4 linked regions of the Homo sapiens genome follow. The protein of the gene in region 1 purifies or fractionates together with the protein of each later gene. This does not show direct contact. Each region holds a gene or a part of one and is shown on either strand. Other genes may lie near its edges. The genes, in order: P2RY12, TMEM161B, SACM1L and LMBR1.

Region 1 (7,894 bases):
ATATTAGTATCACCTTCTTCCCTAGTAAGAATGCTGATTCCCAAAAACGTCAATTTACTTGTTTGTTTAATTCTATGATACATCTGAAATAGTTTTAAAATGTTACACATGGCCGGGCATGTTAAATGTGCTATCCAGCGCTTTGTCAAAAAATGATTAATTAAAATACAGTATCAAAAATGTACACTAGGCTAGGGCGCAGCGGCTCAAGCCTGTAATCCCAGCACTTTGGGAGGCTGAGGCAGGTGGATCACTTGAGGCCAGGAGTTTGAGACCAGCCTGGCCAACATGGTGAAACCCCATCTCTACTAAAAATACAAAAATTAGCCAGGTGTGGTGGCACATGCCTGTCATCCCAGCTACTTGGGAGGCTGAGGCATGAGAATCGCTTGAAACTGGGAGGCGGAGGTTGCAGTGAGCCGAGATTGCGCCACTGCACTCCAGCCCTGGTAAGAGAGCAAGACTCTGTCTCAAAGAAAGAAAGAAAGAAAGAAAGAAATGTTACACACATACCACTAGGAAGAACAAACCTACCTAAAAGGCTTTGAAGATTTGTTTGCAATTCCATTTTCTCTAAGGGTTTAAAATACTGTGTTCAAAAATTATTTGAACTTTTCCCATCCCTATGAGTGTATTCTTTATGTGAAATAGAACTAGGTTCATTTGGTTTTGCATTATTTAAATTCCTTTCTTGTCCCCAGCTCTGGCTATAGAATAGCTTACTTTCAAAAGTGAAACTATACAAAAAAGTATACTCAGAGATGTGTCTCCCTCCCATATCCCTCTTACCAGATGATCCAGTTTTATTATTTTTTGGTTTATTCTCCCTCCCATATATTTGTTTTAAAAGTTCTCTTATAAAAAAAAAGTGACATACCTTATATATTATTTTGTACTTTGCTATAGGTGTCATACCGACTGGGTCATGTTTTTGTATTTTTACAGGCATGTTATAACTATGGTAAAAGATAGCTACATAGTCATATAAGTATTGAGAGGCAATTGTGTGTTGGTTCCCAACTGTGAGTGCATATTGGAATCAGCTGGGGCATTTAAAACAATTTGGATGCCTAAAAAATTACTGATATTTGGGTGCCACCACCTGAGTTTGACTTAATTAGTCTGATGTGGGCCCTGGGCATGGAATTTTATAAAGATCCCAGGTAATTTTAGTGGGCAACCAGCATTGAGCCACTGGTATGGTGGTTAAAAAACAGACTTCACCCGAAATAGATCTGGGTTCAAATTGGGCTCTGTTACTGTTGATGATTTCTTACTTTATTTAGTATAATAATTTGCCTTTGAAAAAAATGGTAAAGAAAAGGCAATAGGAGTTTAAATTGGTAGAAACTCTTCAGAGGGTCATTAACCCCATGCATCTATAGCCCCCCACTCACACTGGACCCAGCAATTGCACTTCTATGAAATTACCCTAAGAAAATTATTGTATAAAAAAGAGATGTGCACTACTACTCATTTATAATGATAACATTATTCATAATAGTATCAAAAAGGAAGATCGTTTTCTAAATATTTGTTATACTATGTTGTATCTAGTCAGTGAGATAGTACAATGTATTCCATAAAAATTATGAAGAACGTATATCTGATAGAATCATTATATAGCAAGTTAGAAAAAACTGACACAAAATAGTGCCTAGAGCAAGACCTTACTTTCCAGTTAAAAACATACTAATATTCTCTTTATTGTCTTTTCTTTTTTCCCATTAAAAAATGTTTTTAAGCAAGTTCTACTTTGTATTTTTTAGAAGCCAAAATGCTAAAAATTTTGTTTTTTAAAATTTTTCTACCTACTTTTTAATGTAATTTTTTAAATTGGAAAATTCCTATCAGTTTTCTATTCAATTATGCACTGTGGATTTAGTACATATTGCATATATATATACCGAAAGCCAGTGCCTGTCAATCTAATTGCCATATTATTTTTAGGAATGGGTAGGAGAGCATTGCTTAAAAGAACCTGAAAGATTATGTACAGACAAAGAACTTATATTGGACCCTGTGCTTTCAAATATGCAAGCACAGAAATTACTGCAGCTTATCTGTTATCCTCATGGCATTAAAGAATGTACCGAGGGGGACAATCTGCAAAGACAGCACATTAAGCGTATTCTTCAGGTCAGTCGTATACAGATTGTGTTTCTGTCATTTGATAAATTCTTCGTAATAATAAAAAGAGTTACTTCCTCTCTTTTTTTGTCCTTGCTAATTTGTGATTTCAATTCTGATTTTTATTCCCACACATTTTCTGTGGAATTGACATACTTTATTTTTGGGTGGATGTACATGCTGCAAATTGTATATGATCATCAAACAAATATTGATATTTTAAATCAGTATTGTATTTACATGAGAAATATGCTTCAGAGAGGGGCTATGTTAAATATATTATTAAAGAAATATTGAAATCATTTTGGATTGGGATTGGTTAAATAGATTTTGAAAGGAGAAATGCTTATTTAGTTTCAGTGCATAGCTGAGTCAGGCACAGTATTAACTAATTAATAATTAATGTTTCTGTTTATTGGTTTGTATCGCTACTGAATATATATGCAGCAAGATTGGGAACCTTTTGACTCATATAAATTATTTCATTGTGTATGATTATTCTGCTCTTTCTTGAGAGAAGGAGTACTGTAAGAAATTACTGTATTTTAACACATTTGATACCCATAATGTTTTAATTCTTTCCATTTTTCCCAGAATCTTGAGCAGTGGACACTGAGGCAATCCTGGTTAGAACTCCAGCTAATGATCAAACAGTGCTTGAAGGACCCTGTGAGTTTATATTGAAAGCTTATCTCTGTATGAAATTTTATAAAAAGCAAAAACACGTTGATGTTTGAGGATAAAGGAATACACATATGTGCCAGTATTCTTATATCTAACTCTAGGGCTCTGGTTCTGTGGCCGAAATGAACAACTTACTGGACAATATTGCAAAGGCAACAATAGAGGTATTCCAGCAGTCTGCAGACCTAAATAATTCTTCTAATTCTGGCATGAGCCTCTTCAACCCAAACAGTATTGGAAGTGCTGATACAAGTAGCACGAGACAGAATGGAATAAAGACATTCCTAAGGTATTTTTGTCTGTTGTTTTATTGAACTGTCATGAATTTTTCACAAGTAACGGTAAATTTTGTGTAGCACAGTGATTTTTCTTTAAGTCATAGGAATGTGAAGAACATAGTTACTTGTAAGCAGGGATTATTATTAATAAGTTAATGAGTAAAGCTGGGGTGAATGATAGCTTCGGAATATTTGATTGAGTAGGCTTAAACACCTTGAAACTGCAGGTGAACTCAGGTTTGGTTCATGCTTTCAGTGTCCCTTAGTCTACTGTGTTACGTAGTATTCATTATATGGGAAACGCTTTTTCCACCATTTTTATTAATTAATTATTTTGCACAAATATATCCTGGTAATTTTTGTGCAGAATTAGAACCAGTAGGCATATAAAGTCTTAAAGTAATTATTTAATCATGAAAGGCTGATTTGTATTTCATCATTTTGGTATAAAGTATAACTAGCGAATTTTAAACCTTAAAAATTAGCTATTAGTATGCTTACATATAATATTTCATATTGTAACTGTGACAGAAAAGTATATTGTTTGTTGGACAAAGTGATTGTTTTTAATTAGAGAGAGGGGGTCATCGGAAAACATTAAAGTCAGTTTAGTTACAATATCCTTCCAGAACTGCATGTTTTATTGCTTTCTGTAGGCTTAGGTGGAAAGCTCATGCAAATGTCTAGTGTTCGGAAAAAGGAAAGATAATACAGAAATAAAAGGGAAATTTTAGAACAGTCTGTGTGTCTCATACATCAAAGTTTCGCTTTGGAGTTTCTGTTATAACTGTGAGAGCAGGGGAAAGGATGCTTTCTCCGGTGTAACACCTGTTTCTGATTTTAGTTCCTCCGAACGCAGGGGTGTATGGTTGGTGGCCCCCCTCATCGCCAGGTTGCCAACTTCTGTGCAAGGAAGAGTGCTGAAAGCCGCTGGGGAAGAGCTGGAGAAGGGACAGCACTTGGGTTCTTCTTCCAAAAAGGAAAGGGACAGACAGAAACAGAAAAGGTGTGGCTGGAAGATGGGCGTCTGTGTGAGAGTTTAAAGAATAATTGAGAAAGTCTCACTTCCTGTAAACCTGTGTGGTCACTGTACCCACAGTCCACTGAAATTTAGTTTTTAAATGGAACTGGGAATATTCTATTAGGCAAGGCTGTCTTATTCCTAAAAAATTTCAGGTTATAATCCTTAATACATTAGTTCTCAATTCTGCCTTTATATCCAAATCACTGCTGAACTGTTAAAAACAGTGATTTCCGAGACCCGCTTTAGACCAACTGAATCAGATCTGGATAGCTACCTGATCCCTGTATTTTATTTTTAATTATTTCTATTTTTTTATTATTTAGATATTTATGTTTAAAATAAATATAATGTATAATTCTGGCATGTTGGTGTCTGAACTAGTTGCTCATATTTTTAACATTTAGGGCTCCTGTTCTAGACTAGACATTAAGACTCCTCGGCCACCACAACTAATGTTTTCTTAATTTATTTTATGCCCAAGAAAAGGTTTCAAGTAATTATATTTGAAAACCGTGTTACTGAGAAAGAAAGAAACCTCACCCTAATGTGAAAATGCCAAGAAACCTAGGAGTAAAGGAAAAAAATTGATAATTTCTTCCATTAAAAAAATATTTTAAGCACATAGATTTCTTGTCCACTAATGAATAATACTATAGTAGCCACCATTTATTGACTGCTTACAGAATGGCAACTCCTCTCTAAAACTCATTATGTACATGAGCTTTTAAAATTCTTATAGCAATCATGTGGTAGGTACTCTCATTATCTTCTTTATATCATGTTGAAACAGACACTTAAAGGTTACATGAGTTGCTCCAGGACACACAGTGAAGGACATAAAGCCTGGGTTTAAATCCAGGAGGTCTGGCTTCTGAGCTTGTGCTCTTAACTACAGTACATTTTGGTAGAGACCCAGCATTGTATGTACTGTATTTGTTTTACATCTGGTTGTTTTACCATGTTGGCCAGGATTAATTAACCAACAAGGAAGCATAATTCTAATTTTCAAATCATATTTGCTGATAGGTGAGTGTATGTGCATTGCCTAACTTCCCATAGGCAGGACAGATGGTATTGAAGAGACTTGAAAGATCGCTCTTCCCACATCAGGGGCTCTTTATTCTGCCCATGGAGAATAATGCTGATTGAAATATTTTGGCCTAGGTCTCATTTTAAGAAATTTGTCTTTCCAACATGGCGCTTTGTTTGTCAATATGATTTGTTGATTATTCTCTAATTGAAGACATTTTGTTAAAATGCCAATTTAAAACAGAATTTTTAACCAAATGCCTTGACACCTCTTTACCAGTGGATGCTGCGGGCTATGTTGGAGCCTGTGGGCTGTGTTGGAGCTGCACACTAGGGGTCGCCAGCAAGTACACTGTTTTTGGAGTCCTCAGCCCTGGCTGATGAATTAGCTCTACTAACACCCTGCTTTTTGGTCTTGGGAAATGTGCTGAAAAACAAAATCAAACCCCAAAACAAGCTCAACAGACATATATATAGGCCTGTTTTCCCAGACTCTAAAACAAGAGTTTTATATGAGAACTTTAAAAATTTTTAATTTTATCCTGTGTATAAATTGATATTCTTTCTGATGTACATTTTTAAATTCTGCATATTGATGTAGAAGATGAATTCACTGTCTTCTACCCTCACTGCCCGGCATGCTCACATGCAGTATGGTTTGATGCTAGTTTGAGAATGGCTTCGAGGGCAATTAGAGCATACGAAGTGATTTAGAAGCATTACAGTGGCTTTTAATTTTATAAGTAGAGGTATGATTTAAATTTTCAAGCAGTCTTTGGCTATTTACCACCTCTCTTATTTATCTAATAGTGAGGCAAAGAAATGAATGTTGCCAGAGGAAGTAATGCATTATTTCTAACTAGATCTGTTGTTATTATTACTTCCTTTGTAGTATGTCTCTTTTGAGTCAACAACCCTTCCTCTCACTGGTACTTACCTGCCTTAAGGGACAAGATGAACAAAGGGAAGGCCTCCTAACATCTCTCCAGAATCAAGTTAACCAGGTAAAGTATAGTATAATATTAAGACAGGCAAATATCTTTCTAACGGCATTCATTTATTTGCCTTTCAAATACTGAGATTAAATTAATAAGGGCCAGGTGTGGTGGCTCATGCCTGTAATCCCAGCACTTTGGGAGGCGGAGGCTGGTGGATCACCTGAGGCCAGGAGTTCGAGACCAGCCTGGCCAACATGGTGAAACCCCGTCTGTACTAAAAATACAAAAATTAGCCGGGCATGATGGTGTGCGCCTATGATCCCAGCTACTCGGGAGGCCAAGGCAGGAGAATTGCTTGAACCTGGGAGGCAGAGGCTGCAGTGAGCTGAGATCGCGCCATTGCACACCAGCCTGGGAAACAATAGTGAAACTCTGTCTCAAAAAAAAAAAAAAAAAACAACTAGTAAGGTTACAAAATGTTTTGAGTAGACGCTGAGAAACAATCCATGCCTTATTCTTCTACCTGGCATTGTAGACACCACAAGATTAACAACTTTATATTAATGAGATATATACAATAAATGTGTACTGCCTATAAAAGTAAAATTTTATATATTGCATATAACTTTGAACTATCTGCCCGTCTCCTAACTCTGCCTCATAGGAGAGGACCTGGAGCAATCTATGCTGCAGTAGGCATGGCAGTGAGTCCAGCTCCTCAAGCTTGGATGCCACATTATCAGGCACGCTTTCAGCTTGAAATCTGTAGGTTCAGAAACTCAGTTGTATTGATGCCAACCAAGTACACAAGAAATAAATCAGAAGGCATGTTGGTTTATTTAGAAATAATTTGGACATTGCCTTTTCACCAAACACAGTTCTCCTGGTCACTGTTTGAGGCTCTTGCATCTATGTACTATAAGGAAACTGAGCATTCACAACAGAAATTGGAGAGCATGGAATTAAGCAAAGTGGATAGATTGGTCTTATGAGGTGTTTTATCCTGATACACAGCCTAATTGACCCCTTCTTGTGGCACTGTGTTTCTATGACACCATGTCTTTCCCTCGAATGGTACTAGATGGACATGGACAAGGACACTTAATCTTATTTGATCCTCTTGTCATTTCTCACCTTTTGGGTAGGAGAGATCTAGATATAGCAATCATAGTGAACCTTTTTAAATGGAAGTCACATATTACCTCAGTATACCTAGTATAAAAAATTCGGGCTGATAAGGCCAGACATGATTTGACACTGGCTCTCTCTCCTACCTTGTCTCCTACCAGTCATGGCCCTCTTTCCTCCATGGTTGTTGCACTGGCCATGTTACTGTTCTTGAACTTGCTGAGCAAATTCTCATTTCAGTGCCTGTGCATCTTTTCTTCCCTTTAGGTGGAAAGATTCCCTTCCAGAGATTAGCATGGCCTGCTCCCTTCATTCAGTTCTCTGTTAAGATGTTACCTCCTTCGGGAGGCCTTTGATCACCTCTAAAAATAGGACCACAGCCATTCTGTATGCCATTGCCATGCCTCAAACCACTTGTTACACTTAGTTTTATTTGTCCCACTACTATTATTTGAGCTCCATGAGAGCTTGTTGTTTAGTTAACTACCTTGCCCCCTTAAGCCAGCCTTAGGGAGGGGTTCATTTCTTCTGATGAGATTTGGGAAGTGCTTTCCTCTCACCTTGCAGGGTACTTACAGGTCATCTGTTGGGATGGAGTACTTCTGCATGTGACTCATTTGAACTCTTTTAAGATGACTCTCATTAATGACCATATTTCAGAGCATGATAGGGTTTTTGTTAGT
Region 2 (7,894 bases), on another chromosome or scaffold:
AGTCTTAAAAGTCTAAATGGGCCAGGTGCAGTGGCTCATGCCTGTAATCTCAGCACTTTGGGAGGCCGAGGCGGGCAGATCACGAGGTCAGGAGATTGAGACCATCCTGGCTAACACGGTGAAACCCCGTCTCCACTAAAAAATACAAAAAAATTAGCCAGGCGTGGTGGCAGGCGCCTGTAGTCCTAGCTACTCAGGAGGCTGAGGCAGGAGAATGGCGTGAACCTGGGAGGTGGAGCTTGCAGTGAGCCAAGATAGCACCACTGCACTCCAGCCTGGGTGACAGAGCGAGACTCCATCTCAAAAAAAATAAAAAAAAAAAACAGTCTAAATCATATTAGACAAGTGATTTATATTGTTCTTCACTGATATTTTTTAGTTCTAGGACATGCTTTACATATACATACAACCTTTACAGATGTAATAATAAACTTTCACGTATTTCGAAGCCACTTTGTATCACAAAATAATCCTATTTGAGATGCTGGACCTCTTAAGATTTTTTGATGGTGGTATGATTTAACCCAAGAAGGGTCAAATTACATAATGACACCTTATATGACATTATCAAAATTATTTTTTAAAAACACGCATCATTTCATTTATCACATAAACCAGTGGTTCTCAAACCTAGTCAAAAATCAAAATCACTTGGAGCACTTTTAAAAATACAAATTCCTAAAACCTACTCTAGATTTACTGAATCTTCAAGGATAGGAGTAGGGAATCTATTTCAAAGAACTCATCAAGTGGTTTTGATATATCCCCAAGTTTAAAAACCAGTGTTTTAAATTGTTATCAACTTAGATGCCTTTCCCTTCTAGGATTCAAATAATTTCATATTAATATTATTTTAAACTAGAATCATTGTCATTATATAATTACAAAAATTGAGATACTACATTTCTATAATATATAGGAGGAAAACTAAATGACCTATTTGGAAATAAATGGATGAAAGTAAATCCTGAATAAGTAAATTTTTCTGATTTGTAATCCAGTTCAGTATTCTAAAACCATTTTCCTTTCTACTATATGTGAGAATAAAATTGAATTACTCTAAATATGGGTAATTCAATAGAAATGCAGTTGATCCTTGAACAATACAGTTTGAACTGTGCGTGTCTACTTATATGCAGATTCTCTTCCACCTCTGCCACCCCTGACCAGCAAGACCAACCCCTCTTCTTCCTTCTCCTCCTCAGCCTACTGAAAGTGAGTATCACAGTGTTGAAGACTTTTATGATGATCCACTTCCACTTAACAGGAAATATATTTTTTCTCCCTTGTGATTTTCTTAATAACATTTTCTTTTCTCTAGCTTACTTTATTGTTATAACACAGTATATAATACACATAACACACAAAATATGTTTTTGTTTTTTTTTTTTTTTTTTTTGAGACGGAGTCTCGCTCTGTCGCCCAGGCTGGAGTGCGGTGGTGCGATCTCGGCTCACTGCAACCTCCGCCTCCCGGGTTCACGTCATTCTCCTGCCTCAGCTCCCTGAGTAGCTGGGACTACAGGCGCCTGCCACCACGCCTGGCTAATTTTTTGTATTTTTAGTAGAGACGGGGTTTCACCACATTAGCCAGGATGGTCTCGATCTCCTGACCTCATGATCCGCCCGCCTTGGCCTCCCAAAGTGCTGGGATTACAGGCGTGAGCCACCGCGCCCAGCCAAAATATGTGTTGATTTTTTATGTTATTGGTAAGTCTTCTGGTTAGCAGTAGGCTATTAGTAGTTAGGTTATGGGGGGTAAAAAGTCATACGTCATACTCGATTTTTCAACTGCATAAAAGTAGGCACCCCAACCCCTGGGCTGCTCAAGGCCGGACATTTCAAATGCAGTTTTGCAAGCCACATTAGAAAAGGGCAGACTGAAATAAACAGTAAAAGGAAGTCTAGAATTCTAGATAATAAAAATTGACTGTGACCTCAATCTAATAAACAGAAACTGTGTAATAAATTTGTGTAAGTTAGCCTCTTCCGAAAATAGGAAAAATAATACAAGTTAGGTGAACAAAAAAATAAATTTAATTCAAATGAAGTCATTTGAGCTTCTAAGTTCTTAGAAAGATTCCATATTCTCTATAATGGACTTAATGATTAAAATGAAAGTACTTTCACTACTATAATATAAAACTGAGATTTATAGAACATTTTATCAAGATTTCCCTTACCTAAAGTATCCACTTCTGTAACTGACTTTGTTTCTAGATGAAGGTCAATATCCTTTGGAATGGTTAATGGCTTACTTTCAATGTGACCATTATATTTCCTATAAAAATCAGACAAGTGACACAAAAAACAAGTTACCTACACTGTTATCCAAGTGCTTGTTTCAAACTAATTACAGATGAAGTTTTAAATTTCACAGTGAAAAGGCAGAATTTCTAATATTTCATCAATAAGGAGGTAAAGTACTCAAAGGTAGTTTTTAAAGGGGTACTATAAAATCTGAATGTAAATTATCATGTGAATATACAGATTACCAGGGAAATAATTACCTAAATTAGTTACTGCAACAAAATCTTTTTTTTTCTAGCTTAGCATTTCACACCCATTTCTCCTACTCTCTTTTCTCTTTAGGCACAAGAGTAAATGCAAATGAAGACAAAGTGCACTTCTCCTTGAAGTGACGTGTATAAACACACACACACACATACATATAAACAGACCCGGAACCATATGCAAGTCAGAGTTGAAGAAAGATTTACGTGTATGAGAAATTCAGAAACATGAAAGACTAACTTGGAATAGTTTTTACTAAAAATCACAGATGAAGGAAAACAAATTCTTCCGGTGTATCTGTATGATTCCCAAATTTAATTTTTAAAGACAAACATATAGAAAGCAATAAACTAAGGTTTCAATTTATTACTTTATGTATTTCTTTAGACACACAGTTGCCCAGGCTGGACTCAAATTCCTGGGCTCAAACAATTTTCCTGCTTCAGCCTCTGAGTAGCTGGGACTACAGGTACACACCCCCATGGCCAGCTTCAACTAAGTTTTAATAATATTAATTTCAATACTGAAAAACAACTTTGCATTTATCCTTGAATAAAAAACTGGAAAGCCTCAGTAAAAAATAATTTCATGTTAATAAACCAAACAATAATTCTTGTTACTAGGAACAAGGCAGCAATGTTAATGTATCTTTTTGTAACTATAAGGCATGTTCAACCTATTAAAAATTACTGCAGAACAGAATTATTCATTACAAGGCATTATAATAAGGATTCAGGCCAGGTGCAATGGCTCGCACCTGTAATTCCAACACTTTGAGAGGCCAGGAAGATCGAGGCAGGAGGATTGCTTAATCTCAGGAGAGACCAGCCTGGGTAACACCGGGAGACCCTGTCTCTACAAATTTTTTTTTTTAAAAACTAGCTGGGTATGGTGTTGCATGCATCTGGTCCCAGCTACTCAGGAGGCTGAGGTGGGAAGATCATCTGGGCATGGTGTTGCATGCATCTGGTCTCAGCTACTCGTGAGGCTGAGGTGGGAAGATCATTTGAGCCTAAGGAGGTTGAAGCCACAGTGAGCCAGAATTGTGCCACTGCACTTCGGCCTGAGTGACAGAGTGAGACTCTTTCTACATAACTAAATTTTACAAATGTTGAACATAGTAGCTATAAATGGGTGGAAGGGGAATAGTTAAAAAGAAACAGAAACTAAAAACTAACCTAGATTCAAATCCTGGTTACCAGTACGTAACCTTACTAGTTATGTAAATTTGGGCAACTCATTTAACATCTCTGATCCTAGCTTCTCATTAGTAAAGTGTAAATTAAATTATTAGCTAACACGGTTGTTTTGTGGATTAAGTAGAACTGTGTATAAAAGTGCTCTGGAAACTATAATGTTAGGCAGGACTATTTTATTAAAGAACTTAACTACTGGAATAAAAAGAAGGAAGGTTTACTATTAATAGTCCAATGAGCTTCCAGGTATATTTGTAATGATAAGTGAAAAAGGATGGTAGTAAGATCAAAAAAGACAGTCTTTTCAAATTTCCAATTTGATGCCAAATAATCATTAATGTTTAATCATTTTTTAGCTTCTATAAATGTATTAGGCTAGGTTAGCATTTTTATGATATACATGAGAAATATGGTTATAATTTGTTGTCAATCAATCATTTCAGAGTCACAGGGGACCTAAGAAGTCCTCCTAGATCCCCAGTTGAGAAAACTACGGTCCATTCAGAGAGGTAATTAACATACACTTTCCCTAAGAATTCTATTTAAATAGAGATATAAAATCTTAAAGCTGGAAGGATTATTCAAAACATTGTTTTGTTTACTCTGTCCAAGTCACAGATGAGGCTTCTATGGTCTGTTCTGTGAGGTCAATTAGTAGGTAGTTCTCTTCATAAACTTTAAACATGAAAAGAACATTCAGGAGCTGATGGGACCTACACAGTTATATTGTCCCTCCCTTTTAATTATAAAATGAGGAAACTGAGGCCAAGAGCAGGTTAATTTCCCCAATGCCACAATACACAGTAGCAGCAAAAACTGGAAAATAACCCAAACCAACTGACGTCTTTAATTAGTTGTAGGATAAAGATATGGGTTATAAGTCTCTCCCCAGTCAACCCCCAATTACATTTTCTTTAGTATGATGGCTATATTGTTTTCATGATTTAAACAAAGAATAAAGTTCTTGAGTAAAATAATCACTATTTTGTGTGTATATATTACTACAGATTAGATTTTCATGGGTTTTGATCTCAAATTTATCAACTACTTACAACATAATTGGTACATGTTTCTTTAATCAAAGCATAAAAATGTATTTATATAAATTGTGTTAAATATTTATTACTTTACAAGCTCAATAAAACTTACCTATCTTTTTTGGTTTTCCCTTTTTGTTGTTTCCCTGCAAGAATTCTTAATTCTTCTTCTGTAGGATGTTGATACCACCTCAAACTAAGCAAAAAAAGAATTCTTTTAAATAAAGCGCTTAAAATCACCAGAATTATTCTTCATCCTATAAATATTTATTAAGTTTCATATTTGTGAAGACACTGTCGAGAAATATCAGGTGAAAACTGTAATCTGAAACAAATACTAACTCTTAAACTTTAAAAGGGTTTAGATAAACATCCAGCAGACACTTAACCAACCACTTACTAGATGCCAGGTCCTACAATGCCATTTGTATGTATATTTCTTACAAATGACAATGTATTAATACATATTAAGATTATACAGGCTTATTATTAAAAGTAAATAAAGTGAAGTCTGTAGCCAAGTGGGCAGGAGCACATTAATTCTCTACTAATCCCTCATTTGAAGGAATTGAGAGTTATCTTAAAAAGAGAGGTGTTTGAATGAATTCTCACATTTACAGGTAGTCTTTCCTTTCTTTCCCTTTTTTAATTTAGTTCGAGAATTCTCAAACTTTGTGTGTAGAATAATTACAGAAAATCATTGTATTAAAAAACACTTCACTTTTAGCTATATCTAACCTTCCTCAGGTAAGGATCCAACAACTGGTTGTATCCCTCTCTACCACAGTCAAAATACTTTAATCTGAAGTGAAGAAATACTCACGATCCAAATTAATCAATTATTCCCTCCCAAGCACCAAGTGGCTCATCCTGAATTTCATGGCTTGCCTAGTCATCCCAACTATCTACAAATCACTTAAATTTGATATTCATATCTTATTTTCAATGTGCCCTCTCCACATGCTATTATTAATTCTGTTTCTCAACTCTTAAAATTCTAAACTCTGCCCTACTGCAGAGACCTTAGTTCAGACCTTAGTTCAGTGTATCTTCCTCTGAACATCTGACTACTGCAAAATTCTCTCACTGGTATCCTCCCTGCCTTCCTGTGGACACATTACTCATCAAATCCATCTGAGCTTACCTCTAGTTATTGGTTTTTTTTTTTTTTATCTTACAGAAAGGTGGACCACCTTTACTTATTTTTCCGTAATACAAATCTTATCAAGACCCATGCCTGTTTAAATCATTTCCAAGGCTCCTCACAGGGAAAAGCAATGAATAAGGCAGCTAGGCAAAAACTTTGACAAAGGCCCTATTATTACAAAGGAAAAAATGCATATCTAGTATGCTAGACCCCCCAATTCTTCAATTACAAAAATCTAGATTTTTTAAATTTGAAATTTCCCAATTGCTGTTCCCCCCGTCCTCAAAATAGAGACAGGGGCTCACTTGGTTGTCCAGGGTAGTCTCGAACTCCTGGCTTCAAAGGATCCTCCCTCCTCAGCTTTCCAAAATGCTGGGATTATAAGCATTAGCCATGGTGCACAGTCTCTTTGATTTGCTGTTTTAAAAACACGGCAGGCCAGGTATGGCGGCTCATACCAGTAATCCCAGAACTTTAGAAGGCTGCAGGATTGTCTGAAGCCAGGAGTTTGAGACCAACCTGGGCAACACAGTGAGACCGTATCTCTACAAAAAATTAAAAAACTAGCCAGGTCTGGTGGCATGCACCTGTGGTCGGGGGAGAGGGTGAGGTGGGAGGACTGCTTGAGCCTGAGAAGTCAAGGCTGTAATGAGCCATCATTGTGCCCCTGCATTCCACTCTGGGCAACAAAGTAAGACCCTATCTCAAAAACAAAACAAAACAAACAAACAAAAAAACTGCAACAACTGTAGAACTGGCAATCTGAGTACCCACTGAATATTTGATTACATTAAAAAATTTTAGGTATGATAATGAGATTGTGGTAATTTTTAAAAATCTCATTATTTTTGATATATATACTGAAATGTACGCTGGGGGAAGTACAGATGAAACAAGTTTGGCCATCAGCTATTAATTGTGATGAGTACACAGGAATTCATAATTCTATCTACTCCTTGTATACTTGAAAATTCCCATTAAAACACATATTTCAAGGCCCACATGTGTATGGGGGTCATGCATTATCTCTTGCTTCTACAGCCTTTCATGATCTGACCAATGCCTACTTCTCCAGATTCACCTTCAACCATTCCCATTTGAAGGTGACACTTTCTGGCTTGACTAAGTGACATTTTCTTCCTCACAAATTCTTTCATCCCTTGGTGCTTTTTGCATATATTCTTCTCTCCTTGTGAACACCTATGCCCCTACTTGGCAAACTCTTATCTCCTATTGTTTACAAGCAGTCTTCTTGTGGTATAATAAAAAATATATCTGCTCTTTGTCCCCAGTTCTTGGCACAGAGTTTTAAAAGTCCTTATAAAAACAAGAGTGTAGAAGTATCTTTGTTATGCTAATGAGGTAGGTCAAGGTGGGCCCCAGATAGCTGCAGGATGGAGCTGATTATCAGAAACACCAAGCACATGATTAGAGGGTCAGGACTTTCAGGAACTTGACCTCCAGTGATGGGAGGGGCCTGGAAATTAAGTTGGATCATTGAAATCAATTTCGTATCAATGACTTAAAATTGTCCCTATATAATGAAACTCAAAAAAACTCTGGACTTCAAAGCTCAGAGAAAATTCCTGTTGGTTAACACATTGATGTGCCCAGAGGGTGAAATCCTGACTTCAGAGTGAAAGGGCATGGAAACTCTGCTCTTTCCCAGAACTTACCCTATGCGCTTTCTTTAAATAATACTGTAATAATAGATAAAGCAGTTTCCTAAGTACTATGAATCATTCTAGCAGATTACTGGATCTGAGGGGATCATGGGAATCCTCAAATTTGTAGCCTATTAATAAGTGAGAAGTGCAGGTGGCCTGGGTACTCTGAAAACTTGAAACTGGTATCTGAAGTGGTGACAATCTTACGGAGAACTTCGCCTTTAACCTGTGGGGTCTGTACTAACTCCAGGTAATTACTGTCAGAATACAAGTGCAGTATACTCAGTTGGTTTCAGATAAGTTGGATTAAAATGGAATGTTACCCTAAGTGAAA
Region 3 (7,894 bases), about 110 Mb from region 1:
ATTAGTGGTGGTGGTGGAGTGAGTCCTTAATTCAGCAAACATTTACTGAGGGCTCACTATATCCTGGACAAAGGAGATAAAACAATGAGTAAGACACAGTCTTTACCTTCAAAAAGTTGCTGATCCAGTGAAAAAAACAAACAAGTATGCAAATCATTACCATCCAAAAAGAAATACACACTGGGTATGTCAGGTACACCAAAGAGGTATACCACCTCTGAAAAATAACTCCCTATGTATTAATGAGGTTAAAAGAGGAAAGTGCTGGGAGAGAGGACCAGGAGTGCTGTGGAAATCCAGACAGAAGGTGAAGACTTCTGTGTGGGAGAGACACTCTGTGAGAGGGGAGCATATGAATGGTGCCCTGAGGATGGTGGAATTCAGACAGGCAGAGAGAGGTTGGCTCAACGAATTCAGGATAGAGGATGAAGGCTGGAAGGTGCCTCTTCTTTCAGAGTGACTAGGATTGCATCTCCAACGTCCAATACACCAAGTCTCAGACTCAAACCTCCAAATTACAGGACATTACTCAAAGGAGAATAAAGAATACATTCTTCTCACTTTAATCTTAAATGCTTTATTAACTCAGTAACATAGCAAAATATTAAGAGAAAAAAGAAAACCAGTAAAGACCTTGTCTCCTCAGGTTCTCAGGCAATTTTACTCTCAACCTTTAAAATGTAATGATAAGTAATATCTTAATCCATTAACATTTATTTGAGTTGGTTAAACTATACATCCATAAATGGAATACTTTGCAGCCATTAGCAATTAAGAACATGGGAAAACATACTGCTCAGTGAAAAAAAGCAGATAATGAAAATACGTATCTCACTTTTGAAAAAAAATCACAGACACTTATAAAGATTAAAACATCAAAATGTTAAGAGTGGTTAGCTTCTCTCTCAAAGGTATGATGATAAATAATATTTTCTCCTTTTCTGCCTACGTGTGCTTTCTATAATTACTATGTATTACTTTGGTAATGTGAAAGGAAAATAAAATCTCAGGACTCCAAATTTACTATGCCAAAGGAAAAAGTTAAACTTGGGAACTGAGTCTCACAAAACTACCCTCCTTTTGTTCCTAAGTAGACAGCTGCAAAGATAGTGGGCCACATATCCTCACAGATGGCCACCCTCACAAACTGTCACAAGCAAATTCCTTGTGGGCCCCAAAATCTTTACCCTAAAAGACAGTCCTGTTGAATCTCCCTCACCCTGACAATGTAAATTAACAGTTTATTTTCACAGGTATGGGACAAAGACAAGACTAGAAAATCATCCCTCCGCCCACCCCAAAACAAATGCAGATCTGACTTCTTTATCTACTCTATGTTTACTTTGTCTTACATAAAATGCAGATTTACTGAGCAGGAGATGAATGCATAATTGACTGTTCCTCTACCCCGTCCTTTCACATGTAACATGGATTCAGTGAGTGCTAATCAAAGCCTCACAAGAATGTGACCACTTATCTTACTACCTACCCTCCCCTTTTGTTTCCATTCCTCCTTCCTCTCCTGTACACTCTTTCCCCATTTAATACTGAAGTCCTTAAAACCCTCTTTGGAAAAAGCACAAGATACTGATCCTACTGTATCTTGTGTCTCTTTTTCCTGGGCAGGTCCTCAACCTTGGCAAATTAAGCCTCTAAACTGACTGAGACCTGTCTCAGACACTCATTGGTTTACAGTAATAAGAAAAACATGTTTTTAAAATCTGAGGTTAAAAAAAACGACAACCATCAAACTACTAGGTATGTTATTTTTCTTCCTGTCACATCTAATGACAATCTAATGTCACATCCACTTTACCCATTAAATTTAATAGGGAAACATCAAGTGTTCGGTGAACTCAAAAACTTAAGATGTTGTAAAAGAAAGGTCAACATTCTAACTAAGAAACAAATGTGTGGAGCAGACTTACCAGCCATAAGCAAACAGATAATGCACATTGAAAAGGCAACAACCATGATAATAGGCAACTGGAAAAGACAATAGAAAGAGATCATCATTTAAGAATGCTAATCAATGGCAGCAAAATCAGTTGTGCATGCATTGCTTGGGAAAAGAATAAAACTCATCTGTCAGCTAATACACAGCTAATATCTTTTGTCAACAAAACATTATTATTTATGGGTTCAATCACAACTGCCCTAGACTTTAGATGGGGGATGTGGTAAGATCGGAAGAAGCATGCTTTTGCTCCAAGCCAAAGGGTGCTAAATGGAAGGAGGATGCCCAGATGAGGACCTAGAACACTAGGCCTCCCTTCCATTCCAGAGCACTTGACACACTGGAAAGAAAATCCAGAGCGGCTCTTGCAGGGTCTGGTGAACAGAGGAGTCAAAAAGGAGAGAAGCATCAAAAATAAACTTTGCCTTCCATGTAACACGTTTGTCTCTGGCAATTCCCTCAATGTAAGAGAATTGAAGTTTTCCTGAAATGAGAAAGCTTCCACATTCCCTTTGCTTATGTTACTTCACATGAAAAGGATGTGTGAGAGTCTGAGGAAAAGAAAACAAATGCTCCACAGTTACTGTACTCCTCAGCCTGACCTCTTTGGAAAACTTAAGTATTTATATTTCATGTAATGAAATATAAAACCACATATAACGTTTTAAATTGAGACTGAAACCATCTATACCTTCAGACACAATGCTTTTAAAAACTTGAAAAATACAAAATGGTTTCTTACAGCCAGGAATTTCCAGTCCCTTGGAACACTTAAAGGACTATGAGATTCTAATTCATCCACTGAATAGTTTCCAAGAAATAAGTCTATGGAATCCTAGAACAGAAAGGAAGAAATTCGTAAACTCAGTGTGAGATAACATTAGTGATGAACAATGCAAAGATACAACCACGTAATGCCAGGAAAGCATCAAATACAAACTTACTTGTCTAAATCCATCGGAAAAGTTGTTCTTATAATATCGTATCATTGAGTTCCAGCCATCCATTATAAGTCCCAAATGAGTTCTCTTTCCAGTTCTGGTTAAAGAGGTTAAATTTTAAGTTACAGGTTTGTACACTGAATTCTCACACTGTTTTATGGCCAATAAGCATAAGGTATAGAAATAAGTGAGTGACAGATTTTAAAAACTATCCCTGAAAATACAGATACTTCACAAAAGAAATCACTTGTAGGTCCAAGAAATACCTATTTTCTTTCTAAAATATTACCAAAGGAGGCACAAAGAAACACACTAATTCCAGTTGCAAAGACAAGAAATATGAAGAGAAATACATAGCCCAGGTTAAGTGGTAGGACACAGCAAAGCAAACAGACTAGAAATCTTATTCTGCTCCCAGGGAACCCACATAGCAGAAAAAGAGCCACTGCATGCATAATACATTCAAAATGTTCTCATTAATGTCCTCATTACTCAGTGCAGTCTTTGAAAGCAGCATCAGCATCACCTGGGTGCTTTTTAGAGCACATCTCAAGACTGGTGCTTCAGGTACACGGTAAGGTCTGAGGAGCACTGTGGAGCGGTGGCTCTCAACCCTCCCCAAGCATCAGAATCTCCCAGGGTGGCTAAGAACACACCAGTACCCGGGCCTCACTTCCCAGAAATCCTGACTCCACAGGTCTCAAGTGAGGCCCAGATGCTGGAGTCTTGCTGTTGTTGCTGCTGCTGTCTGAAAGCTGCCCAGGTGATTTTTAAAAGCACCAGGACTGTGAACTACTGATGTGGAATGCTATTTTAAAAGCATGGCTTGCCTGGTAAAGTCAGTCTTCAAGGCACCAGTTCCCGCATATTGCTTGGCACAAGCATTTGCGTTGTCAGCCCAGGCTGTAGAAAAAAGTAAAAACAGCTGATAATTATTAAGATGACAAACAAAGTTCTAAATCCAGAATATTAATTTATTTCAAAATCTGACCAACTTTGTCTATATTAAAGAAATGACCTACCATTTTTGTAAATCTTCTCAAATTCATCTTGTTCTTCAAGCTTTTGTCCCACATGCAAAACTCCTAGTCTCTGGAATAAAAAACCACACCCAGATTTATGTGTAATAGATTTTAGCAGACATGGTTTAGGAAGAAAAAGCAGTCCCCAAATTTTATCTCATGGTGCCTGGTTGCTGGATGCAGGCCAGAAATGTCTGTTGTCTATAGGGGGCCCCAGCTCACAGCAGCCCTCTCCTGCCCAGGGCAGACTGCAAAGCCTCTCCTGAGGGCACCTTTGCCTTGCAGCCCCCGCACTCCCTTGAGGGATAGCAGCAGGACTATACTCAGGGAGAGGGTCAGAAGAGAGAGTGAAAGCTGCTATAGGATTCCAGCCGCTACTTCCTCCCTCCCTCTTACCCCCAGTCTTCTACTGCCTCTACCCCTTGAGACCCCCTCACATGCATCATCCCTCAACTTCTTCACCCCTGAGTCACCCCAGCCTTACCCTCTGTCCCAGGGACCTTTAAGAATCTGATGAGTGCCACCTAATCTACCTCCCCAAAAGTGCACACACACAGACATAGAATATCCCAGGGTTGCTGGGCCCCCTGAATCCCCTCTATAGACTCCCCTTTGGAGACCACCAACCACAGATGACAAGTCCCTGCCTTGTCTCAGACCATCACTTCTGAGAACCACCATCTTCATTGCTTACCTCAGATGACACCTCATCTCCACCTCAGAAGGAGTCATTCCCACCCTCAGACACAGCACAGGAGCCACCTTGGTGACCTTTAGCTGGGTAAGAACTCTGCCTTCACTGGCAGACTTGGAGAGGCACAAGTAGACAGCCCCTACACTAGTAGGCAAAGCTGCTGGAGAGGCTCCTGCCCCCACTCTCTGCAGGTTGGTTAGGTTTCATAATACTATATATAGCATGTAAAATTGTAAAATATGGATTGCAGAGCCTAGTCAAGTAAGTTTTGGTTAATCAGCCATGGAACCAAACCATTCCTAATATTGTTTCTATTAAAAACTACACTTAGAAGACCTTCCAACAGACGAGGACATAGCACAATACAAACTACAGACTACTCCAACAGGGACAGCACTCCTCTGGCAGGTGTGACTTTAAGATTCAAGAACAATTCATTCTGAAGGGGGTATTTTACCTCCATAATTTCTTTCTCGGTATCATACAATTGTCAGAAATAAAGCTGAATGCTTACTAATTACCTGAACAGGAAACCATGTGGTATGCATTTTGTCTGCCCCTCACAACAAATGCCAATGTGATTTAAAAATTGGGGCTCTACATCTTTTTCATTCCAAATATACACAGAAGAAAAAAACCATTTTTCTCAACAGCATAGTCTAGTGGTAAAGCAAAGCTGTGTCAGAAACTTTTTACTTTGGAGTCAATATTCCTTGCTAGTAATAAGAGAGAGATAAATAGAAACAATCTTGAGGTGCTACTTTTGTATTAACGAAATAGAAAAAAAAGAGGCTAGACACAGTGGCTCAAGCCTGTAATCCCAGCACTTTGGGAGCTGAGGCAGGTAGACTGCTTGAGCCCAGGGGTTTGAGACCAACCTGGGCAACATGGTGAAATCCTGTCTCTACAAAAAAAAATACAAAAATTAGCCAGGTGTGGTGGCACATGCCTGTAGCCCCAGCTTTGTGGGAGGCTGAGTTAGTAGGATGGCTTGAGCCCAGGAGGCAGAGGTTGCAGCAAGCCGAGACTGCACCACTGCACTCCAGCCTGGGCAACAGAGCCAGACACTTTCTCAAGGAAAAACAAAAAAAAAATTAAAATATCAAATGCTGGGAAGAGTTCAATGAAATGGATTTACTGATTCATTATTGGTGTCAGTGTAAACTGGTATGACGCTCTTGGAAAATAATATATTTATTCTCTTTAACCCAGTAATTCCACTTCTAGGAATTAACATGAAGGAAATAATTCAAGTTAATAATAACATATACAGATATATTCTCTACGGTGTTATTTATAAACCAAAAATGTAGCAATCTGAATGGCTTAGTAAATTACGGCACAACAATACAACCACCAGAAACTGTGATTACATAAATGCTAAGGGAAAATGGCAAAAGTGAAAACTGTGCATACACAGACTGACCCTAGTTATGGAAAATGTGACATCCATGGGCAAGACACAAAAATAAAAAGAGCTGGGTTAGGGTGTGGGCAATGTGAATATTTTTTGTTACTGGGTTTTAAAGATGTTTAATTTTTTGCTGTGTTGTTTTTCAATTAAAAAAAAAAAAAGCATTCGCACCTGAAGTTGGGCCTGAAGTGAACGACGAGCTAACAAACTCTGGATCACATTGGTTCTATCTAGACAATCCATGCAATTGCTTCGGAACACGCCTTCCTGGTTTGCCACCACCTGGCCAGCAGAGTCCACTAGAAAATAACTAAAACATATTTGTATAAACACTCTCATACCAAAGTAGGTCAGATTTACTAAGGACTTAACTCTTATAACATGGGTCTCATTTCAGTGACATTATTAAAAACTGTAAATTAAAAGGTCAGACAGGAATGTGTGGTCAGGCATATGTGATTATCCTAGACCAAAAAGAAGTCTAAATGGCTGAGGCAAGACAGCCCTCCATCCAAAAAATGGCTGAAGATTAGAGATCATCTCACCCCAAAGATGTGAAAAAGTAAAGTTAAGAGTATTAAAAAGGTTGCTGTGCAAATCAATCATGTTTCCCAAAGCCAGATGAGGGTTTCCTCTAACATAATTATTCCAACTATATCCCTAGATGTCAGGGCTTTATGATTCATATACTATCTTTAGAATCCTCTGGGTTGCTTGTGAAAAAAGATTCCTGGCCTTGAGATCAACTGAATCAGAATCTCTGAGGCAAGGATTGAATATTTTGCATTAAAAATACTTTTAGCTGGGCGTGGTGGTGCGTGCCTGTAATCCCAGCTACTTGGGAGGCTGAGGTGGAAGGATTACTTGAGCTCAGAAGTTCGAGACCAGCCTGGACAACATAACGAGTCCCTGCCTCTAAAAGAACAAAAACGTAGCCAGGCATGGTGGTGCCTACCTGTAGTCAGAAGGCTAAAGTGGGAGGATCACTTGAGCTCAAGGGTTAAAGGTTGCAGTGAACTATGATCACACCACTGCACTCCAGCCTGGGTGACAGAGCGATATCCTGTATCTAAATTAAAAAAAATTTTTTTTAAATACTTAAAAATATTTTTTTTCTTTTTCTTTTTTTTTTGAGATGGAATCTCCCTCCGTCACCCAGACTGAAGCACAGTGGCATGATCTCAGCTCACTCCAACCTCTGCCTCCCAGGTTCAAGTGATTCTCCTGCCTCGGCCTCCTGAGTAGCTGTGATTACAGGCACCCACCACCATGCCTGGCTAATTTTTGTATTTTTAGTACAGATAGGGTTTTGACATGTTGGCCAAGCTGGTCTTGAACTCCTGACCTCAGGTGATCCGTCTGCCTTGGCTTCCCAAAGTGCTGGGATTACAGGCGTGAGCCACAGCCCCCAGCCAAAAAAAAAAAAAAAAATTCTTAAATGGGTAATACATGCAAATAGTACAAGATTTATAAAGAACAATTGGGTATTATTTGAAAAATCAGTTTCCCTTCCTCCCCTTAAACATCCAGATGTCTGCACTGCAACCAACCACAGTTACCAGTTCCCATGTTTTCTTTAACAAGCTCCTTGATAATTCTATGAATTCAAAAATCTGACAACACACAGTGTGGTGGTTAAGAATATGGATGCAGGAAGCAAACTATCTGTTTGCTAGCCTTAGCATCATACGCAACTTACTAACTCTAGAACTTTAAATAGTAAGCTTTTTCATCCACAAAATGGAGGTAACAGCAGCACCACCATTAGGCTTCTCTAAGGTTTGAATGAGATAACACATAATGCACATAAAGTACTTAGCACAGTGTATGGAACACAGCAAACAACGAATACTGGATAATGTTAAC
Region 4 (7,894 bases), on another chromosome or scaffold:
AAGCTGGTCTTGAACTCCTGACCTCAGGTGATCCGCCTGCCTCAGCCTCCCAAAGTGCTGGGATTATAGAAGTGAGCCACCACACCCGCCCAGCCTACATGTACCAATTTTAAACAGCCAAAAAGCTAACTACGGTAAATAACTACAGTAAATATAGGCCCAAGCCAATATTTTAGAGATAGAAGGAACAGACACCCAGTCCAACATTTGTTTTCTCATTTACATTTACCTACATAATGTCTAAAACAAGAAATCCATAAACTACATCAGTAACATGCAACACTTTCCATTTATATCATCTTTATGTACTAAAAACACTCCATGAATATTAAAGATTGGTATTATCAAAATCATCCAATAGACCAAAATCTAGAGAAGTGGTATGTTTACATACAAACCAAGTCAAACAACAGTAGTTCAAAAGAAAAAACCATACTAATAATTTACCAATTGTATGGGATATTGTCTGCACTGTTAAAAATCCTAAAATTGATTTAATTCTAGTTTTGTTAACATAGCTATCCTTCTGAGAGGATCCTTATTATCTTCGTAGCTGTAGGGCAAATCTCAAAGAAGTCTAGAGCTGATATCAGTGTTCCATATCCTCACATCCAAACTACTCACACTCAGCAAAAAAAATAAATTGTGAGGAGCTAATGGACAAAAAGACAGAAACCATATATACATCTCCTTTCAGACTTTAAAGTATTTTCAGAAAACAGATTTTCAAATCATGCAATCCCTGTCAGATGTCCAATTTATACAGCTGATGTGAAATTTATTTGAAGCAATCCAATAATTCCCAGCCTTTCAACAAATCTTTACGGTCCCCTATGACCTAGCACTGAACTCATCACTGGCACACATACCAACTCGATCCTTGAGAAGCCTGACTTGGAAGGTGAGAAAAAACAAATACTAAAATAATAATCAACAGTAATAAACAAATAAATATACAAACAAATAATGACAAAGAATGACCATCCTATGAGGAAGAAAGGAATAGGAAGAAAAGGGGAAGAGATACCTAAATGGCCAGCCAGCAAGCCCTCTCCAAAGAGGGAACATTTAGGCTGAAATGAGTGGCAAGTGCTGGAATGTGAGCTACTCCCGAGGAGAAAGAGTGGTACACGGAGAGGATCTCCTGGATGCAGTGGGTTAGGGGAGAGGAATCCCAGAGAAAACCCACATGTCTGGGACCAGGTCCTTGGGGGCCTTGATCCAAAGTTCCTTTCCCATCAACACTTCTTTTCACTTTCTACTATCTGGATCAGAATTGACAGTTTTTACATAAGGTCTAAGGCATACAAAAGGATTTTTATCTTTCTTATGCAAATTGTCCAAGAATTACTTATCACCACGGGTATGTCTTAGTGTGAATGAGTGACTGATGTAGTTTGGATATTTGTCCCTTCAGAACCTCATGTTGAAATCTGATCCCCAGTATTGGAGGTGGGACCCTGTAGGAAGTATTTGGGTCATGGGGGTGGATCTCTCATGAATAACCGATTTGGTGCTGTCCACACAGTAATAACTGAGTTCTTGCTCTATTTGTTCACATGACAGCAGGTTGTTTAAAAGAGTATGGACCTCTCTCTCGCCTGCTCCCTCTCTTGCCCTGTGACACAAATGCTCCTCGTTTGCCTCTCGCCATGACTGGAAACTTCCTGAAGCACTAGCCAGAGGCAGGTCCCAGTGCCATGCTTCTTGTACAGCCTGCAGAACCATAAGCCAAATAAACCTCTCTTCTTTATAAATTACTCAGCCTCAGGTTTATACCAATGCATAATAGACTAATGCAGTGACAATGTAAATAACACACATATATTTGTGTTAAGTTCTTATGAGCACCATCCTCCTTGATTTCTACAACAATCCTACGAAAAACAGACTGTTCTCATCTCCATTTTATATTCCAAGAAGCAGGGTTACCAAAGAAATGTTACGTGCCTTCAAACCCTATACTCAACTACTATGGGCTAATGGGGGCTTAAATATGGGTAAGACATAGTCCTTGACCTCAAACAGCTGATATTCTAGTGTAGCAGAAGAGAGCAGATGAATTTAAAAAATAATTAGAAGATTTGTTAAAGTCATAACCGTGGCTTAAATAAAACATTACAAAAGTTCAAAGGAAGAAAAATTATTCCCAGATGGGGAGACAAAAGTTTCGACCAGTGTTTTTGATGGTAGTAGCATAGTAGCATCTTATCTGACAGCTTAAATTACCAAAAGAAAGGCATTTCAATTAGAGGAAACTGTAAGCAGAACACAGAAGTGGAGGGGTAAAGTCCACTCAGCAAACAAATCGGTTTTACAGCTCTGGAGCTTACAGCAAAATAGAATGGCAGACCAGCTTCTGGTATGAAACCAGCCTCTTGGGTTCACACTCTGCCCCCTCATAGATCTCTGATCTTGTACAAGCTACTTAATCTTCCTGAAATGACATTAGTTTAGCCATAAAATAAGAATACTACTATCTAACTTATAGGTTTGTCATCAGGATAAAATGAAATTATGTGTGTAAAATATAGTGTTTATTGCTAGCATATATAATACACTCAATTACTCAATAAATAATCTTTATTACTGAATGTTACCAACAAGAAAAGAAACAAAGACAAGACTTTGAGGATACTGTTAATGTTAGAAATGCAAAATGCTCGTTCCCTGGTGCTGCAAAGAAATAGCACTCGAACATAAATTTAATTTTCTCAGCAAGGCAATTTTTACTTCTATAGAAGGGTGCGACTGGCAAATGGAGTAATGGAGAGAGCACACCTGCACAGGGGAGGGGAAGGAGTTCTTATTTCTGACACAGGGCCCTACTAGTGTGTCGTTCCCCTATTGACAATGGTTGGACCACACAGTCTAAGCTAATTCCGACTGGCTATTTTAAAGGGAGCAGGCATATGAGCCAGAGTGGCAGGGTGACTAGTCTAGCAGGAAGGACAGTTAGGAACAGGTAACTAAAGATGACTTAGGTCAAAGCAGGTGACCAGGGGTGACTCAGGTCAAAGAAGGTGACCAGGGGTGAGTCAGGATGGAGCAGGTGACCAGCGAACAGATGTGAAATACTGATTAGGACTGGTGGGAAAGTTGTTTACTGAAACCAGAGGCAAGGGGGAGAAGAGAACCAGGAAGTTAAACTTTAAAATGGAGAATCGAAGAAGAAGAGAGCTGAACACACTGACATACTGATTCTTTGAGGAAAAACTTGGGGTTCACTATATTTAACATTAATAAGAGACAAGTTAAGGAGAAAAATTAGCTTGGGGAAGGGAGCTAAGTAAGTAGTTTCGTTTTATATACGTTGAGTTTTCAGCTCCATGGGGTATTCAATTATAGCACTTAAAATGTACTGGAATTTGTTTCCATTGTCTTTTCCTCATTAGAATTAGGCATTTAAAAGTGATGTGGAAATGGCAGAGATGGTTTAGGAGCAGAGCATTAATAGAAATTTAGACCAATGATGGAACTTTAAACATTTGCCTATAGTTAGGGGTCAGGAAGCAGAAAAGGAGAAAGAAGACCAAACAAACAAACAAACAACAACAAATGTAGGAAGAAACTAAATGAATTCAATGTCCCAAAACCTCTTTACAAGGGAAAGGAATTTCAAGACTTGGCAGCATGTGTGTGGTACACAAGTGTGTATACAACATTTACATACTTTTTGTAAAATGTATTTACGCATTTTTTAAAAATAAAAAATTAAACTTCATCTTTAAAATATAAAAATATTATGATTTTCAAAATTAAGCAAGCATTTACTAAAAGTATAGCCCCTATAACACTTCCTCAGTATTTTCCCTAAATGAATCATGACAAGGAAGACAAACACATAACTATAACGATTTAATAAGTATTACTAGTGAGACAGAAACAAAAGGGAATATGAGAAATGCAAAGAAAGGACTTTAATTCTTTGTCCTTGAAGAAGCAAGGCAACGTTCAAAGCTATGTAGACAGTGGAGCTGATATTTGAGCTAGGCCGTAGGAGGCTGCTAGGTAGCTGGAGCAGGTAAGAGGCCTTGAAGGGAAAGAGACAGTCCTGGAGACAGAATGCATAGAGCCTATTCAGAGCACAGCAAGTTCGCTCATGAGCTAGAGTGACAGTAAACACAGGGACAGCTAGAGGAAAACTGAGTGTGGACCAGGCTGTGAAAGGCTTTGTAACATGTAAGTAGTTTACTCTTGAGTTCATAGGCAGTGAGGATCCATGAAAATAAGTGACAGATTTCCTAGGGGCAGCTAAGAAATCGTTTTTATATAATTAAATATCTGACAAAATAGAGACCAAAGAAAGCGACAAATCATTAGAATTACAATCAACTGAAAATCATTTAAAAACTAATATATAGTGTTTCTAAGATGAAAGGTAAAGTATGCTTCAATTAATCGAGACACAATATGCAGACAAATTTTCAGAAATATAACCATTTTGTAAATTAAAGCATACATGTAAATTTTGAAACATAATAGAGGTACTTTTTGATATTAGGCAATGGACACCTAAAATACCTGTAAATATTTGTAAATTTTGTCCTAAAATTTGCTAGAGGAATTTTTACCTATGCACCTATAGTTAGTATTTTAAAAGCAAAACCAAATTTGGTTTCCAAAGACTGGAAATTTAACCAAAGTTCTATTAAACAAAAAACTTAATAGGCCAAGTGCGGTGGCTCACGCCTGTAATCCCAGCACTTTGGGAGGCCGAGGTGGGCAGATAACGAGGTCAGGAGATTGAGACCACCCTGCCTAACACAGTGAAACCCCGTCTCTACTAAAAATACAAAAAAATTAGCCGGGCAAGGTGGCAGGGGCCTGTAGTCCCAGCTACTCGGGAGGCTGAGGCAGGAGAAAGGTGTGAACCCAGGGGGCGGAGCCTGCAGTGAGCCGAGATCGCACCACTGCACTCCAGCCTGGGCGACAGAGCAAGACTCTGTCTCAAAAAAAAAAAAAAAACTTAATAAAACAACAATTTGAGTGATAAACATACAAAACATATTCTTCTTCTATTTCTAAATGCTAGCTCACAATATCAAAGACAATCAAATGTAAACACATTTATTTAATAAACAAAATGATTTATAATTAAATACTTACTGTTGGCTTCACTAGCAACTGACCCATCACTGTGAACATACGAGAAAGGCCAACTGGTGTACACACTGCAGAAATAAGATCACCAAAAGACAGAAAGCGACATTATAGAGCTTGGAGAAAGAGATAAACAACTAGACTGTAAAAATAAGGGAAATTCAAGGATTATCATTTTAAGAACATTCTTCTCTCCAACTGAGATTGTCAGTGTTTTGTCAGAGAACTCTTCACCATCATCAATAAAGAAGCTAGAGGGGCCATGTGAGCAGGATAGGTGTAATTAGTTATGAAAGATATGTGACAACAAAAAAAGGCTTAGAATAATATTCAAGATTCTAGCAGTTGAATAATAATAAATACTTTTGCTTAAAATAAAGAAAAATTAGCAAAGAACAGGTTAAATTTCAAGTATTAATAGGACTGAGAAACAAACAAGAATATCTAAAGGTGACAACCATAGTCTTAAGTCCTTTAAACTACATTTATCTACTTATCCCTGAGATAGGCTGTGATGCTTCAAGTAAAACAAAACAAACTTTTAAAAAACCACAAACTTATCATACATAATTCTACCATTTCCATTTAAAAGTAGAATCTAGCATTATGACAGGTATGGGGGTGAGGCTATAGCATGTGTGTATGAGTGTGCACATGGTTTGTGTGTCAGTGTATGTAAGTATGACTGTATATGAGTGTGTGAAAGTGTGTGAGTGTGAGTGTGTGTGTGTGTGTGTGTGTGTGTCTGTCCGTCTGTCTCACTCTACAACCCAGTAGAAGAAGCTTTCCTTAGAGAACAATAAAAGCATCTTATTATTTCAAAGTTTCCATTTATCAAAATTTATTTTGAATAAAAATAGTTAAGGCGAACTCAAAAAAAATCCAAATAGTTAAGAAATCTCATCAGAAAACTTCCCTGAATTTTCCAGAATAAGGACAACTCTACTTTTCTCTTAATATCAAGTCTGAAAAATACTTACAGAGAAGTAACAAACATCCCATCAATGATATACAGGAATATAAATAGGGTAGATAGAACTCCCAGAGATCTATTAAAAAAAAGTAAATATATTTTAATAAATCCAAAATACTGCACATTAAGATAGTCAGTCTATCTTACGATAAGATAGAGGCTGACTGTACCTCATGTAAACATTGTAATTGCCTATTTTAGTTTATTAAGCCATATAATTTCTAAATTGTACAATAAAAAGATCTAAAATAGAAAACCAAGAAGTAACCCTTTAGCAAAACCTGTCTGGAGGGAGAAAAAATGTCTCCACGGAATTTGAAGAACAGAAACCAATTAACAAAAACAAAAAAAAAAAATCTGAAAAGCTGCTTACTTGTTCTTCACATATAAAATAAATAAAACTTCATTTTTAGATAAAAATATCTAAAGATTTCTTAATTCTGTAAATTAACATCAAACATCTTTGTTAACTACACAAAGATTTAAATGTTTTTAAAATTGAGTGTGTAATTATATCCCAAACTACAGTTTCCAGTAAGGAAACTGGTTAAAACAAGGAAATCCATACCATATAAAGATTCCATGCTTGCGGCATCGTTGTCAATGAGTGCTGAAGCTACCCACACTATCCCAAGAATGAGTAACGCAAGAAGAAGAAGCATGACCAAAGTCTCTAAAATGCGGGCTCGGATTCCCTGAAAAATAGAGTAGAAATATAATTTTAGTATTTTACTTCATTTCATGAACAATAAGGTTTCTGCCTATATGAAAGCATAAAATAATCCCTTGGAAGGAGAGGAAATTTATATTTATTAAAAGGAAAAAAACACTAGGTACTTATGGTTTACAATGTTTAGACTGACTTTTCAAATTATGGAAAATATTATTAAGCTTGGATAAAACACAAAAAAAATTCTTCATAAAAAACATCTGCAGAGCCATTTTTAACAATTACTTTCCTAACACTTTCCACTAACAAAGCAGATTAATGAATTTCTATCCGTGATTCTAATCAAGGGAATAGAAGGCTAATTATGGCACAGAGCCAAACAGTTCAGTGAGCACTGAACTTGGTGCGCCACAATGCTCCGAGCTGCTGGAGAGCGCCGGCTCTCTCTAGCATGGACTCTGGTGCTCCTCACAGCCTCCGGAGCCCTCTACTGTGCCGCTGAAGAACTGTCCATTGTAATCCAGCATTATAAACTATAGAGATACTGCTTTTATCAGTTCTATATGATGCTTTTCTTCACATTATATAGAATTTTCATTAATCCATGAGACAAGAATATAATAATATAATCATTATGCACAACTTTGTTTTAAATGTAAAACAAATTCTGACTTCAGGACCAAACTAAAGGCCAGACTTTTAAAACTTAAAAACTGCAGGATAAGACAAAAAAAGAAACCGCTTTTACTCCCCAAAAAATCACCCAATGATTGAATCTGCACCTATAAGTTAAAGCATCATATTGATATTTTGTACTGCAATGCACTAACCTACAATTATCTAACACAACCAACAAAATTATAAATACATCCATATTTCTCAATAAATTATGTTATCTCATTCCACATTTAACATAAAAATATGAGTTATAAAATTCCAAAACATACACTTATTTCAATTTTGTCCTAAGTATTACTTTCTAGTTTCTGAATTGCAGGAATAGGATGCATTAAAATCACGGCACCCCAGTTCTTCAAATTCAATAGAAAGGAAAGAAAACGTCCTAAAAGCATGGAGAGGTATACCTAGCCCTAAATGATAACCTCTGAGGTGAAGTGACTTTTTCTTACTAGTCCTTCAACAATATC

What was found.
Region 2: the proteins of P2RY12 (region 1) and TMEM161B purify together in Homo sapiens (affinity purification with mass spectrometry; 3 studies listed by BioGRID and IntAct, with this or other methods). This does not show direct contact.
Region 3: the proteins of P2RY12 (region 1) and SACM1L purify together in Homo sapiens (affinity purification with mass spectrometry; 3 studies listed by BioGRID and IntAct, with this or other methods). This does not show direct contact.
Region 4: the proteins of P2RY12 (region 1) and LMBR1 purify together in Homo sapiens (affinity purification with mass spectrometry; 3 studies listed by BioGRID and IntAct, with this or other methods). This does not show direct contact.

What each region holds. Positions count from the first base shown.
Region 1 is NC_000003.12:151,374,076-151,381,969, forward strand, and holds part of P2RY12 (P2Y purinoceptor 12), read right to left. Parts: intron 6,150-7,894; coding exon of another isoform or gene 6,038-6,149; intron 4,099-6,037; coding exon of another isoform or gene 3,937-4,098; intron 3,104-3,936; coding exon of another isoform or gene 2,916-3,103; intron 2,800-2,915; coding exon of another isoform or gene 2,725-2,799; intron 2,140-2,724; coding exon of another isoform or gene 1,951-2,139; intron 1-1,950. Other genes in the region: MED12L (mediator of RNA polymerase II transcription subunit 12-like protein), read left to right, coding at 1,951-2,139, 2,725-2,799, 2,916-3,103, 3,937-4,098, 6,038-6,149. UniProt on the Homo sapiens protein: Receptor for ADP and ATP coupled to G-proteins that inhibit the adenylyl cyclase second messenger system. Not activated by UDP and UTP. Required for normal platelet aggregation and blood coagulation.
Region 2 is NC_000005.10:88,223,587-88,231,480, forward strand, and holds part of TMEM161B (transmembrane protein 161B), read right to left. Parts: intron 4,943-7,894; coding exon 4,859-4,942; intron 2,281-4,858; coding exon 2,183-2,280; intron 1-2,182. UniProt on the Homo sapiens protein: Essential for maintaining normal cardiac rhythm in the developing heart and for neonatal survival.
Region 3 is NC_000003.12:45,733,679-45,741,572, reverse strand, and holds part of SACM1L (phosphatidylinositol-3-phosphatase SAC1), read right to left. Parts: intron 6,339-7,894; coding exon 6,200-6,338; intron 3,991-6,199; coding exon 3,921-3,990; intron 3,802-3,920; coding exon 3,729-3,801; intron 2,996-3,728; coding exon 2,902-2,995; intron 2,793-2,901; coding exon 2,700-2,792; intron 1,987-2,699; coding exon 1,929-1,986; intron 1-1,928.
Region 4 is NC_000007.14:156,757,025-156,764,918, forward strand, and holds part of LMBR1 (limb region 1 protein homolog), read right to left. Parts: intron 6,772-7,894; coding exon 6,645-6,771; intron 6,153-6,644; coding exon 6,084-6,152; intron 5,175-6,083; coding exon 5,110-5,174; intron 1-5,109. UniProt on the Homo sapiens protein: Putative membrane receptor.